Homo sapiens: one gene and its partners. The protein of the gene in region 1 interacts with the protein of each later gene in a biochemical or structural test. Each region holds a gene or a part of one and is shown in the gene's direction. Other genes may lie near its edges.

Region 1 (3,500 bases):
AATTTATGTCTTTCATCTCATAATTGAACTGCAAAACCTTTCTGTTTTTAATTTATCATTTTATTCCCTAAGTCTAGCATTGGTTTTGGCACATTTTTGACCCTTAGTAAATACTTGTTGAAGTAACTCGACCTCTCACAACTTCATTTATTAAAGTACAATACACCCATTTATTGTACTTGATACTTGTTTAAAATTTGTTAAAATACAATACCCCCATTTATTGTACTTGATATTTGGTATTCATTTTCTGGACTAACTTTCCTAAAGGAGGAAGTTCTCTAATGTGATTCCTCCTGCTGAAGACTATCGATTCCCTATTTATTCAATCCAGATTCCGTTTGATGTTATACGTGAAAAGTCCATAAACTGTTTCTGTAAAGGGCCAGACGGTAAATATTTTTGGCTTTGTGGGCCATGTGCAGTCTCTGTCACATTCTTTCCCAGGCTGGAGGGGCAGTGGCGCAATCTTAGCTCACTTCAACGTCTGCCTCATGGGTTCAAGCCATTCTCCTGTCTCAACCTCCTGAGTTGCTGGGATTACAGGCACGCCCCACCACTCTTGGCTAATTTTTGTGTTTTTAGTAGAAGCAGGGTTTTACCATGTTGGCTAGGCTGGTCTCAAACTCCTGACCTCAGGTTATCCGCCTGCCTCAACCTCCCAAAGTGCTAGGATTACAGGCATGAGCCACAACACTGGCGTTTTAAGTGCCTTTAGTTTTAACAGTTCAGTCTTTACAGTGCTATTTACTGAAGTTATTTATTAAATATGCCTAAAATAGTTTTAAAAAACGTAAAAAACCATTCCTAGCTCAAGGCCATACAGAAACAGAATGAGGACCATAGCTTGCCAACCCTTCCTAAGTAATCAATTCCCCAGGTGTATCAATTATTTTATTTTCATGTTATCTTCTCTGGTCAGATAGCCGAGCATTGTCTACCTTCTGCATTAGTTGAAACTTGTAAAATTTATATTGTAATAATTACTTATAAAATGCTTTAAAGCAGAAACAACTTAATGTTTTCATAGCCCAGAGCACATGTGAGGAGAGGCAGACCATATTTTGCAGCAGCACTGTGCCAAGGGGCTGTTTTCATTAAAGAGGGTTAATGACATTAAGATGAGGTTCTCACTTAGGTAAGTTAATTTTCTGTTTATTATTTTATAATATTCTTAGGGCATTGTTTTAAGATTTTATCGTCTTGAGTATCTTTAAGCTTTAACAACTCATTTTTGATGTTTGACATGTATGCTAATTTAAAAGTATTGGTAAAGTCAGCTAAATGCATTCACACATCTAAAAAGGACTATTTTCTCTGCTTGAATGCTTATTAGAACTACTTGGAGCCCTTATTCCTCCCCCACCCCACCCCATGTTTTAAAAGTTATACAAATCATCGTTAGAAAATTAAAGATACATCAGTCTAAATATGTAGGTCTTGCTTTAGTATCAGGTTCGTCATTTCAAGCCATTCAGCCTTATTAGTGTACAAAGCACATTTAGTTACTTGGAAAGCAGGCATTCTGATTTATTGATTGTGGGGGGCTATCTTCCCTCCCTTTGTCCCTCTTTTAAGAAATTGAAAACATTTAAAATGTAATTAAGAACTTTAATCATTTGTTTTTAAACTTTTAGGCTAGTGATACAGAGCGAGATGGACTAGCCCCAGAAAAGACATCACCAGATAGAGATAAGAAAAAAGAGCAGTCAGAAGTATCTGTTTCTCCTAGAGCTTCAAAACATCATTATTCAAGATCACGATCAAGGTCAAGAGAAAGAAAACGAAAGTCAGGTATGAATTCTTAAAGGTGGTTACAACTCTCAGCATTTGTATAAGATATGTAGACCTGTTGTATAAGAAGACACATACATTTAGTTTGTTGGCTGGGCATGGTGGCTCAAGCCTGTAATGCCAGCACTTTGGGAGGCCAAGGCAGGCAGATCACCTGAGCCAGGACCAAAAATACAAAAATTGACACACTCTCAGCCCAATGCAACCTCCATCTGCTGGGTTCAGGCAGTTCTTCTGCCTCAGCCTCCTGAGTAGCTGGGATTATAGGCGTGCGCCACCACGCCTAGCTTATTTTTGTATTTTTAGTAGAGACTGGGTTTCACCATGTTGGAACATATCAAATATAATTCAACCTGTTTATTTTCTTTAGTTTTTATTTTTCTTAATGGCTTACCTCTCTCTATTAAACCCCCTTATGAATTTGCTGTAGACTAGGAAACTAGATGGGCTGGTCAGAATATATGTAAAATACTGAAAGTCTATGACCGTTTAAAAGATGTATCTAGGCTGCTTTATGTCCTGGTTTGCTCAGATTGCTTGATTTGTTTCACATGTGTGTTGTATTAATGTAGAATAATCCCACCCGTGCCATGAAAAAATTAGTCATTGGAAGAAGACTAATGGGAGTCATTTTTCTCCAGCATTAAGAGTTTTTTAAGATGAAATGTTTCTCCAACTTTGTTTATGGTGATTATTTTTTTTGTGTATTCACAGATAATGAAGGAAGAAAACACAGGAGCCGGAGCAGAAGCAAAGAGGTAATTAACACTTTGTAGTGAATAGGTACTTTAAAATACTTATAAAGTGTCTGGTAGAAAGATTTGTATGAATATAAGACGTTGTCAAGGTAAGTACAAAACTTGAAATTTAAAAGGTTTATTGGGTTATAAAATAAGCATGATTTTGATTCATCATTTTTGAAGAAGATGTTTATGTGAAAAGTACCTTCAAAACTTTAATTTTATTATATTGTGAAAATATTCACAATAAAAATTTCATATGAAGAATATGATTGGTTTTTTTAGGCCTGTCACACAGAGCTTCCATTAATCTGAGGTCCCGAGTCTCCTGGTGCCTGACAGTTGCTCAGGATTTTTAAACAGCAATCATCTTTACATAGCAATACCCTAGATATCTGTGCGCTGCTTTTTCCTTATGAACGATAACAGGAGTTCTCTTTTCTTTTGCAAACTAGTTCAGTTTCCCTAATAGTAGTATTGAATTTTGAAATAAAGGTTTGAGTGAGGGACAGCTGAAAAGGTGGCGGTGACACCAAAACTTGAGGAAAAAGAAAGGCAGCAGCTGTATTGCAAAGGAGTTACTTGTTCACCCACCTGAGAAGACAAAGAATGAGCCAATAAGGAAGTGTAGAAGTAGTAGCCAGAAAGGGAGAAGAGTCTTGTGGGGGCTGGGTAAGGGACTCCTAAAACAAGAGTGGGCAGGGACTTCACCTCTTCCCGTAATGGAAGCTCTGTTAAATTTTTAATTTAGGAGAGTTTTTGTGAAAATGACTATTTTGTTTAGCTCACATGATAACATTTCTATAATAAATCATACTCAGCGTGCTTATGCGCGAAGAGACTGAACTGAAGACGCTGCAGACTCAGATAGCAAAATAATAAGCCTACTTCATGATAAGGTAACTATTAGTCATTCAAACTCCTATTTCCCTTAAATATATCTTAAATCAGTTAAGGGTTTTAATG
Region 2 (3,500 bases), on another chromosome or scaffold:
TTTTCTACAAGGACCAACTGTCATTTACCCTTAGGGTAGGAGCACTAAGTATGCATTTCTTGACATTCTCATTCGAGTCATTAGAGGCAGCATCAATCCAAGGACTCCGACTGCATTAATTGGGTAGAAGCAGTTGGGATATTTTGTACTCAAAACTCTCTTCTCACCCTGTTTGTTTCCCAGCATGCAGGCTTTCTGAGCTGATCAAGGTTAACAAGGCAGCTTTCAGAGAGATTAGTGCTTGAACACATATCAAGCCTTTCATACTACCAGCTAAGCAACCGGTTGTCCCCACTCCCAGCATCAAGTCTTGCTCGAAGTAACCAGATTTAGGCAGTCAGATCTTCAAAGGGCGCACGTAACCACATAGAAGGGTAGAACTACAGAGTGCTGTTATTCATTCTTTTGCATTTTACATGTTAGCGTTTCTCTGTATACTAACTGAGTGTGCCCCTGACCATGGGTATTGATTATTTTTTCTCTGTACAGACGGTCTGTCTGATAAGAGCTCTCACTCTGGCCAAGGAGCTCTGAATTGTGAGTCTGCCCCTCAGGGGAATTCGGAGCTAGAGGACATGGAAAATAAAGCCAGGAAAGTCAAAAAAACGAAAGAGAAGGAGAAGAAAAAGGAAAAGGGCAAATTGAAAGTCAAGGAGAAAAAGCGCAAAGAGGAGAATGAAGATCCAGAAAGGAAAATAAAGAAGAAGGGCTTCGGCGCCATGCTGAGGTATGGGCCTGCTTTGAAGGCAAAGTTGGTTCTCATTTTGTCTCTCCTGGTAAAATCACTCCTTTGTCTGTACTCAGAAAAAAGCGCACGCTTTTCCTCGTCTTCAGCCAAATGCATACGGCTCTCAATTCTGTGCTCGTTCTCTTTCTGCAGAGGCAGAGGAGCTTTTTGGGGAAAGTTACAGTGATGACAGGACACTGTCTTAAGTTTGTTGTCAAAGAAAGGTCAACACTATGCCAGGCACGGTGGCTCATGCCTGTAATCTCAGTACTTTGGGAGGCTGGGAGGATTGCTTGAGCCCAAGAGTTCAAGACCAGCCTGGGCAAGGTAGGGAGACCCTATTCTTTTTTTCTTTTTTCTTTTCTTTTTTTTTTTTTTTTTTTTTTTGAGACAGTCGCGCTTTGTCGCCCAGGCTGGAGTGCAGTGGCGTGATCTCGGCTCACTGCAACCTCCGCCTCCTGGGTTCAAGCGATTCTTCTGCCTTAGCCTCCCTAGTAGCTGAGACTATAGGCATGCACCACAACGCCCAGCTCATTTTTGTATTTTTAGTAGAGTGGAGTTTCGCCATGTGGGCCAGGAGTCTTGAACTCCTGACCTCAAGTGATCTGCCTTGTCTGCCTTGGCCTCCCAAAGTGCTGGGGTTTCAGGCAGGAGACCCTATTTCTAAGAAAAAAAAAATTAGCCAGGCACAGTGGTGCATACCTGTAATCCCAAGTACTCAGGAGGCTGAGGCCAGAGCATGGCTTGATCCCAGTAGTTCAAGGCTGCAGTGAGCTATGATTACACCATAAAAGAAAGGCCAATACTTAGTAGAGGCATGGACAATGCCTGCAGTCCTTTGTACCAAAGTGTTATGAAAATAAATACTTCCTCTGACACCACAGGGAAAGTGGGAAGTGGGGAAGCCCTATGTGTTACCTCTGGAATACCTCTTTTGAAGCAGGGGAGTCAGGGTAGATGAACCTCATCCCTCTGTGACTCTAGGTGTGCAGTGGCCGGGCCTCTGGGCACATCACTTGTCACCTCCAGAGGCACTGTGGTACAGGGGAGATGTCACTGGGTCTGGGCTCTGATGCCCAAGTCTGGATCCATGACTCCCCACACATGAGCAATGGGGCTTCACACACATTGCTTAGCTTCCCTGAGCCTTACTTTCCTTACTTTTAAAATGAGGCCAGCATACTTGCTCTACTGACCCAGCACAGTTGTGAGATATGATTTCATATGCTATACATTCATTGACTAGACGGGGCTCAACATGGCACAGTCAGAAAACAGCTTTGTTTCTTCTCTCCCCTTCAAGTATAAACTGTTGAGGCTGCCTCTTCCACACCCTGACATCTCAGCTTTCTGGCTGATAGCTTTCTGGTCACTTTTGGGTAAAAAAAAAAGCAACTTGTTTGTCGGGGGCTAAAATATGCAATCCAATATAAATGAAAGCTTTCTTCCTTTCTGCCTGTTGGACCTGAACCACAAGGAGCATCCTATGGTATGGTGGGAGGCAGGATTCCACCTTCTCCTATTTCTCAGTCTTTGGAACCAGGAGACAAAGACAAGATTCAATAGGATAGGATTTTACTTAACTGGCATTATCTGGTATAATCTGGCCATCAAGGAATCTTTGTGGCTACTTTTGTGGATTTTTTAGAGTGCTCCTTACTATACCAGTCACTAATGTAGGTGATTTTCCCACTGACCTATTTCCCTAAGCCTCTGACCTCAGACATATACCCCTGAGTCTCCTTACCCCGGCTGGTAGACTTCTTGGACAGTGCCAGTTTGAGACAGCTCTAGCTTAACTTACAGCCACAGCATCTACCTGGCTTATTAGAGTTCCTGATCTCCCACCCTCCAAATGATGCAAGTACAGCTTGTTCCCACTGTACCGCTCCTCCTCACCCCACCATAGAGATGTTCCAACCAGCCTTGCATCTTCAGACTTCTCCAGCACATCCCACACCAGCTCTGGGCCTCCTCACTCCAGAAGCACACATCAGACTCTCCCAAGAATGCTGTCATGCATGGGGAAGGGAGGAGGCAGTCAATTTTTGCAAGTCACAAAATAAACAGGTAGGAAGTGGGGTGACAATCTCCTATTATACAATTACCTCCAAATTCCCTAAGGGGTTTACTTGTAGCCCCCTCACTTATTTTGTTGGGTGTTACAGGCAGAAGTACCCCTTTCTATTACTGTCTTTACTCCTATAATTTCTTCTCAAATCAATTGATCACTATACTTCTGTGGGCTGAAGGTGAATGATGGGAGATGATGGTTTAGGGGCCAGTTTGGCCACCTCTTATGAAACCCTTAGGAGATACCTCATTTAAGAATGCTGCGTGTATTTATTACCAATTGTTCTCATTTTGTGATCATCAGCTGAAATTTCTACATAGAAAAGAAAGTTCCATCATTCCATATATAAGTGACATTTAGGGAATACAAATAATCCTCTTAGCAGTGAGCCTTCCCGTTACATTTCCAGTGCTCATGAAATGCTAAGCAAGGTTCCTCATGCTCAAAATCTTGGGAGCGATGTTGCCCCTGGATGTGTTATGACAAGACTTGCTGCGGTCCTGCTATCACCTGGGGTGAGGTTACCCCAGCAGGCCTGATGTCATAATAGCTATCTGAATATTAAAAAACAAAATTTTGGCCAGGCATAGTGGCCCAAGCCTGTAATCCCAGCACTTTGGGAGGCCAAGACGGGCGGATCACCTGAGGTCAGGAGTTCGAGACCAGCTTGACTAACATGGAGAAACCCCTTCTCTACTA
Region 3 (3,500 bases), on another chromosome or scaffold:
GATGACATGCAAATGTATTATATACCTCAAACAGCATTACTATTAGCACAATTAATTGGCTTTAAAACTACCATTGAACAGTGACATATTTGGGGATTTCAGTCAGTAAAACAAATCGATTGTTTCTTATGTCACACTATATAATCTATGGTGTCTTTACCTTTCATCAAAAGTTGTTTTTTTATCAAGAACTTGACAGTGGGAGCCAGGCACGGTGGCTCACACCTGTAATCCTAGCACTTTGGGAGGGCTGATTGCTTGAGTCCAGGAGTTCAAGACCACCCTGGGCTTTCCACCATGGAAACCCTGTCTCTACAAAAAAATACAAAAAAATTAACAGGACATGGTGGCGTGCACCTGTAGTACCAGCTACTCGGGAGGCTGAGATGGGAGAGTCACTTGAGCCTGGAAGGCAGAGGTTGCAGTGAGCTGAGATTGCACCACTGCACTCCAGCCTGGGTGACAGAGCAAGACCCTGACTCAAAAAGCAAATAAATAAAAAAATCAAAAGAGACAATTAAAACTTATAATAAAAAAGAACTTGGCAGTGTAAGTCCTTCTTAGCCAACTAGAAAATTAATTTCTTTTTTTATGACTAATTTATTACCTGATTCAACCTTTAATTTTTTACTAAAAAAAGCTAACCAGTAATATTACATTGATACTTTTAACCTATCTTGATTGATATTAATTACCTTTTTTAATGTGTTTGTTTTGCTTATCTAGAAAAACACACCTTGACTTTAGTCAGATACATCACTGTCTGTTAAAGGAAACCAAGCGTGAAGTGGAAGTCTAACACATGAGGATACAGAATTGATTCAAAATGGGAACAACAAGTGATGAGATGGTGTCTGTGGAACAGACCTCCTCCTCTTCTCTAAACCCCCTGTGTTTTGAATGTGGCCAACAGCACTGGACAAGAGAAAACCATTTGTACAATTACCAGAATGAAGTGGATGATGACCTAGTCTGCCATATTTGCCTTCAACCTCTGCTGCAGCCACTAGACACACCCTGTGGACATACATTCTGCTACAAGTGCCTCAGAAACTTTTTACAAGAGAAAGATTTCTGTCCGTTGGACCGGAAAAGACTTCATTTTAAGTTGTGCAAGAAGTCTAGTATTCTAGTTCATAAACTCCTAGACAAATTATTAGTTTTATGTCCATTTTCTTCAGTGTGCAAAGATGTAATGCAACGTTGTGATCTGGAGGCACATCTCAAAAACAGGTAAGCAAAAAATATAAAAGAAGTAACTCCAGATTTTGGAAAAAGGTGGTTCAAATGAACATAAAAACTTGATTAAAACAAAACAAACCAGAGCACTAGTAAGTAAATGGGTGAATCAAGTACAGAAGAGATACAATAAATAAGTTGTATGGAACAGTATTTAACATTATTTATCAAAAACATGAATACAAAAACTACAGTGAGGAAGTACTGTTTTATACCTGTTAATATTTCTGCTGCTGTAATATGAAACTGATATATTCAAATAGATGACAGGATATTATGATAGATTCTTTCTATAAAGCAGTTTGGCAGTTTGTTTTTAAAAACTATATGAATGTAAATCTCCTTTTATCTAGTTTATTATCCTAAGGAAATAATCTAAAAGCAGGAAAAATTGTATGTAAATATGTTCAGTGCAACATTGTGCATAGTTTGGTAAATTGGAATCAGTTATTTAAAAGTAGGGAAGGGTTAAAAAATACTATGCACATAAACTCAGTGGGATATTATGCAGCCAATAAAAACGATAATTTTGTTGCAATATGGAAATAAATACATTATTTTATTTGCTAAGATCTTGTAAAGATTCTGGGTTCAGGGACTAGACTGAACAAGAATTAGGAGTTGGAAAACTAAATATTTAGTGGGGATTTCTGTTCTCATAAAAGCTTTTTAAAAGGTTAAGTAATTTATTTAGCTGATGAGTTTTATAATTTGATTTTGCTAAAAGACTTGATCTTTAACTTAGGAAGAGTTACAGTATACGTCATTTGTGTAGAATCACATAAAATGGCAGAAATAAATACTGGTTTCTAATTTCAAGTTAAGCCAGTTTTACAGTATAAATCTGCAGTAATCTCGATTGCTGTGAAAAACAATGCATACTACATCATACTGGACTTAGATGTAAGAGTGTAAGTCTGATATAGAATGGCTTGCTATTATACTCACACATAAAATCATAGACTTGAAGGAGATTATCTAATCCCCCTCATTTTATGAATAAGGAGACTGAGTCACAAAAATTTAGTTAATGCTGTAGTTAGACTCAAGCTTTACTGTTCTTGTTTACTATTCTAATAAACCATGTTGACTCTATCGTAGGTCAAGTCATGTTCTCTGCTGCTATGTAGCAAAAGTTTCATTCATGTGCACATGAAATACACATTCATTTTGTATCAATATATTGTTGATATTTATTTCTAAACATCAGAGTTAAGACATGAGAAACAATGAAAAAAACAAAGATGTTATTAAAATGTTGGAAACATTTAGATTTATAGAATGCTTAACTCTAAACTGTGTTGTCTAGAACTAGGAGGTAAGATAGAGTAGGATAGACAGACTTTTGAAAATGCGTGTAATAATGTAGCATTGCATTTTTTTATATCTTCTGTAACCAGCAAGCATAGAATCTGAACATGATGGCAGAGGCCTCCTGGAAACTGACACTGGTCTTTTGAATATACTAGTCTGAGTCAGGACTAGTTATGGCTGAAGAATATTTCAGGCTGCTTCTTTCAGTAGAACTGTTCTTTTCAGTGTATAGGCTTCTTTTCTAAACATCAGTTATGAGATGTTAGAGGAACTGAATGAAATGTCAGTTCAGTTATTTATGATTTTGAGAGCTGAAAGATAACAGTTTCACAGATTTTCAGGAATATTCCTTTAACATGCATTCAAGAATTTAATTTGCAGTTGAACTATTACTAGTGTTTCTTATCAAACCATTTATAATGAGAATGTAAAAAACCTTGGTAATTGCAAACTGCCTTTTCATTTACATGTTGGTAAAGGCTTATCCAGTTGAAGGTTTCATTTTCCAGCTGTGCTTATTAGTATTGAAGTAACCAATTTTATCATTTCTAAAGTATCTTAGGCCTGTAACATGAAAGATACAGTGAAAAGATGGATGATTGGAAAAGGTGGTGATTTGCCTGATACAGACAGCTAAGAGTGATTACTGAGTATATAAATGTAAAAAAATTATAAAATGTAATATGATTTTTATATGCCATTTGAACAGATAGTGATGAACAGCCTGACCTTTCTCTGTTCTCTTAAATAAGAACATTGAAATTCAGGTAGAAATGTATATTATACAACATTCAACCCTAAATAATATAGTTCATTTGTTTATTCAGCAAATATTGATTATCTGCTATGTGCCAGATACTTTTCTAGGTGTTAGGTAGTCTCTGCAAGTTAGAATCTAATGCCGGGTTGTAGATTCCTTTAGAAACAGAACCATGTCTTTATAGTCT
Region 4 (2,170 bases), on another chromosome or scaffold:
ATGTACAGGCTGCTGACGGCCCAGGAGCAGCCTGTTTACATCTGACCGCGGCCACACGCGGTGGCATGCATGGAGGACTCTCCTCTTCGTGGTTGTGTTTCTCGTGCTGCATCCCTGTGTCCACTGAGACTTTCCCCTCTCGCGCCCAGCATTTGGTTTTACACAGGAAGAGAAGAATCCACAAGGACCTCTTTACTCTCTCCGATTTGCTTTTTTTTTTTTTTTTTTTTCAATACCAGGGAAGTTTCGTATGCACTCCCTTGAGGATGGAGAGCAGCCAGCACCCACCTGGTACTGACCCAGGACCATCCTGGAGGGCTTTCTGGGTGTGTCCAGGGGGTGGGCTGTCACTGCTTGAGGGAGAATCCTCCCTTCCCAGGAGGTGCAGACTTCTTAAAAGGAGCTCGCGGGGCAGCAAAGCAGCTGATTCAGCAGTGCCTAAAACCCAGTTGCTGATCCCTGCTCTCTGAGTTTATCTGTGGGAATGTGGTAGTACCCAGGGCCAGCCCACGTCATTAAGGTTATGCACTGCCTGCCATGTAGTTGGGGCACCATACATTATTTCTTCCCAGAATCTCTGAGCCAACCTTAAACCTCTTCTATTGCTAGTTCTAATTTCAACGTATGTGTGTTTTCTAATACGAGCCTTCTCACCCCAGGATAAAAGGGGAAATAACTGCCTTGGGCAAGGACACCATAGTGTCACAGAGAGCTTGGCAATTCATGGGGCATCTGAAGCTTTACCAGGTTGTCCTCAAGTTATCAACCATTAGATAAACACAGGCAGGTACTGTCTGCTTCTCTCTCTCTCACACACACACACACACACACAGTCCCATTTGCATATCACCCTTCCCTGCTCCCACCACCAGTGAGACAAGCTGAAGATTAGGCACACAGATCCCCTGGAAACCCACCTCTCTGGAAGGCCCCTTCCCTGGCAGGTGGCCAGGCAGGCGGGGGCTGCTCAGCCTCATCCTGAGAGACCTGCCCTCTCTGCGCTGAGGCCCAGCCCCTCCAGCACCACTTTGGCTTAAAGCATCCTCCTCCTGGACTCCCCTCCCTGCCGAACACACATCCCAGGAGTCTGGGAAGGAGGGACTGTTCCCAAGAAGGCAAGCTGCAGGTGCAATTGCGTCTTGTTTTCTGGCCCAAGGCAAGACCAACTTTCTTCTCTGCTCAGGGCCACTAGGCGGATGTGATATTGGAAAGGCCAGAATAGTACATAAACCACAAAATTAAGGAGACAATAGCAACCTCAAGTTATGCCTCAGAATCCCCAGATGTGGTCCATAAACACCCTCTTGCTGCCTTGTGGGCCTGAGAGCATTTTTGGCTGGTGTGGAATTGTTCCGTGTTTTCATCAGGTGCCTCATATTTATGCTTCCGTCTCAGTTCAGTGTAGATGTTTTAGTAATATTATAATTCTGAGCCAGTTTTCACTTGGTCCAAAGAGCATTTTGTGTTCATGTGAGGTGTGATTTGGCTTTGCTTTTGTTTTGTTTCATTCATGACCTCAGTAGAGACAGGGGAAGAGAAACTATTATATTTTGTAATTAATATAGTCCCTGTTCTCTGCATCCGAGATATTTATGTTGTGTCTATGGAAATAGGAACTCAGTGAGCAAATGGTGGGTAGCATGTATTTATAGAGAGAATGGAGGGATTCTAAGGAGGGAGCAAAGTGACTATAACAAGATTAGGGACAAGAGACTTCAACCAGAGAGTTCTGTGATCAATTCCCCGAGATCTCTGCATCTTCTGAGTTTTCTGCTTAGAATCAGGGAAGCTCAGTGCTTGACAGGAACGAGCAGTGGCACTCTCAGTTTCACTGTGTTACAAAGGAGCCCTGAGGAAGGGAGGCCGCTGGCTGCCCAGGTGCCCTGGGGGGAAAGGGACTTCTGCTGCTGCAGAGAGTGGCACCCGGTGGGGCCAGGGGCTCTGGGATGGTCCGTAAAGCTCCCCAGGACTTCTTTGAAGGATGCTTTACAGAATGTTTCTGGGAGACCAGCCTCAAGGTCAACCCATCACAAACGTGAGGACCAGGAAGGAACCATGGCCAGGGTTCTCCATTTGCTGTAGAGTATCTGGTGATACAGTGAGACACTAAAGAGTCATCAGCCAGTTCATCTTTCCTCTGCCAATAAGAGTGGATAGAACAGGAATGAAG

Evidence for each region. Proteins that work in one complex are often made in the same cells at the same time.
Region 2: the proteins of RSRC2 (region 1) and PARD3B interact in a test that uses a peptide from one of them, tested with the Homo sapiens proteins (one large-scale study listed by IntAct).
Region 3: the proteins of RSRC2 (region 1) and LNX2 interact in a test that uses a peptide from one of them, tested with the Homo sapiens proteins (one large-scale study listed by IntAct).
Region 4: the proteins of RSRC2 (region 1) and APBA1 interact in a test that uses a peptide from one of them, tested with the Homo sapiens proteins (one large-scale study listed by IntAct).

Annotation. Positions count from the first base shown.
Region 1 is NC_000012.12:122,520,437-122,523,936, reverse strand, and holds part of RSRC2 (arginine/serine-rich coiled-coil protein 2), read left to right. Parts: intron 1-1,637; coding exon 1,638-1,794; intron 1,795-2,504; exon of another isoform or gene 2,505-2,508; coding exon 2,509-2,552; intron 2,553-3,355; exon of another isoform or gene 3,356-3,425; coding exon of another isoform or gene 3,426-3,433; intron 3,434-3,500.
Region 2 is NC_000002.12:205,300,975-205,304,474, forward strand, and holds part of PARD3B (partitioning defective 3 homolog B), read left to right. Parts: intron 1-489; coding exon 490-727; intron 728-3,500. UniProt on the Homo sapiens protein: Putative adapter protein involved in asymmetrical cell division and cell polarization processes. May play a role in the formation of epithelial tight junctions.
Region 3 is NC_000013.11:27,579,030-27,582,529, reverse strand, and holds part of LNX2 (ligand of Numb protein X 2), read left to right. Parts: intron 1-726; 5' UTR 727-826; coding exon 827-1,233; intron 1,234-3,500.
Region 4 is NC_000009.12:69,429,202-69,431,371, reverse strand, and holds part of APBA1 (amyloid-beta A4 precursor protein-binding family A member 1), read left to right. Parts: coding exon 1-45; 3' UTR 46-2,170. UniProt on the Homo sapiens protein: Putative function in synaptic vesicle exocytosis by binding to Munc18-1, an essential component of the synaptic vesicle exocytotic machinery. May modulate processing of the amyloid-beta precursor protein (APP) and hence formation of APP-beta.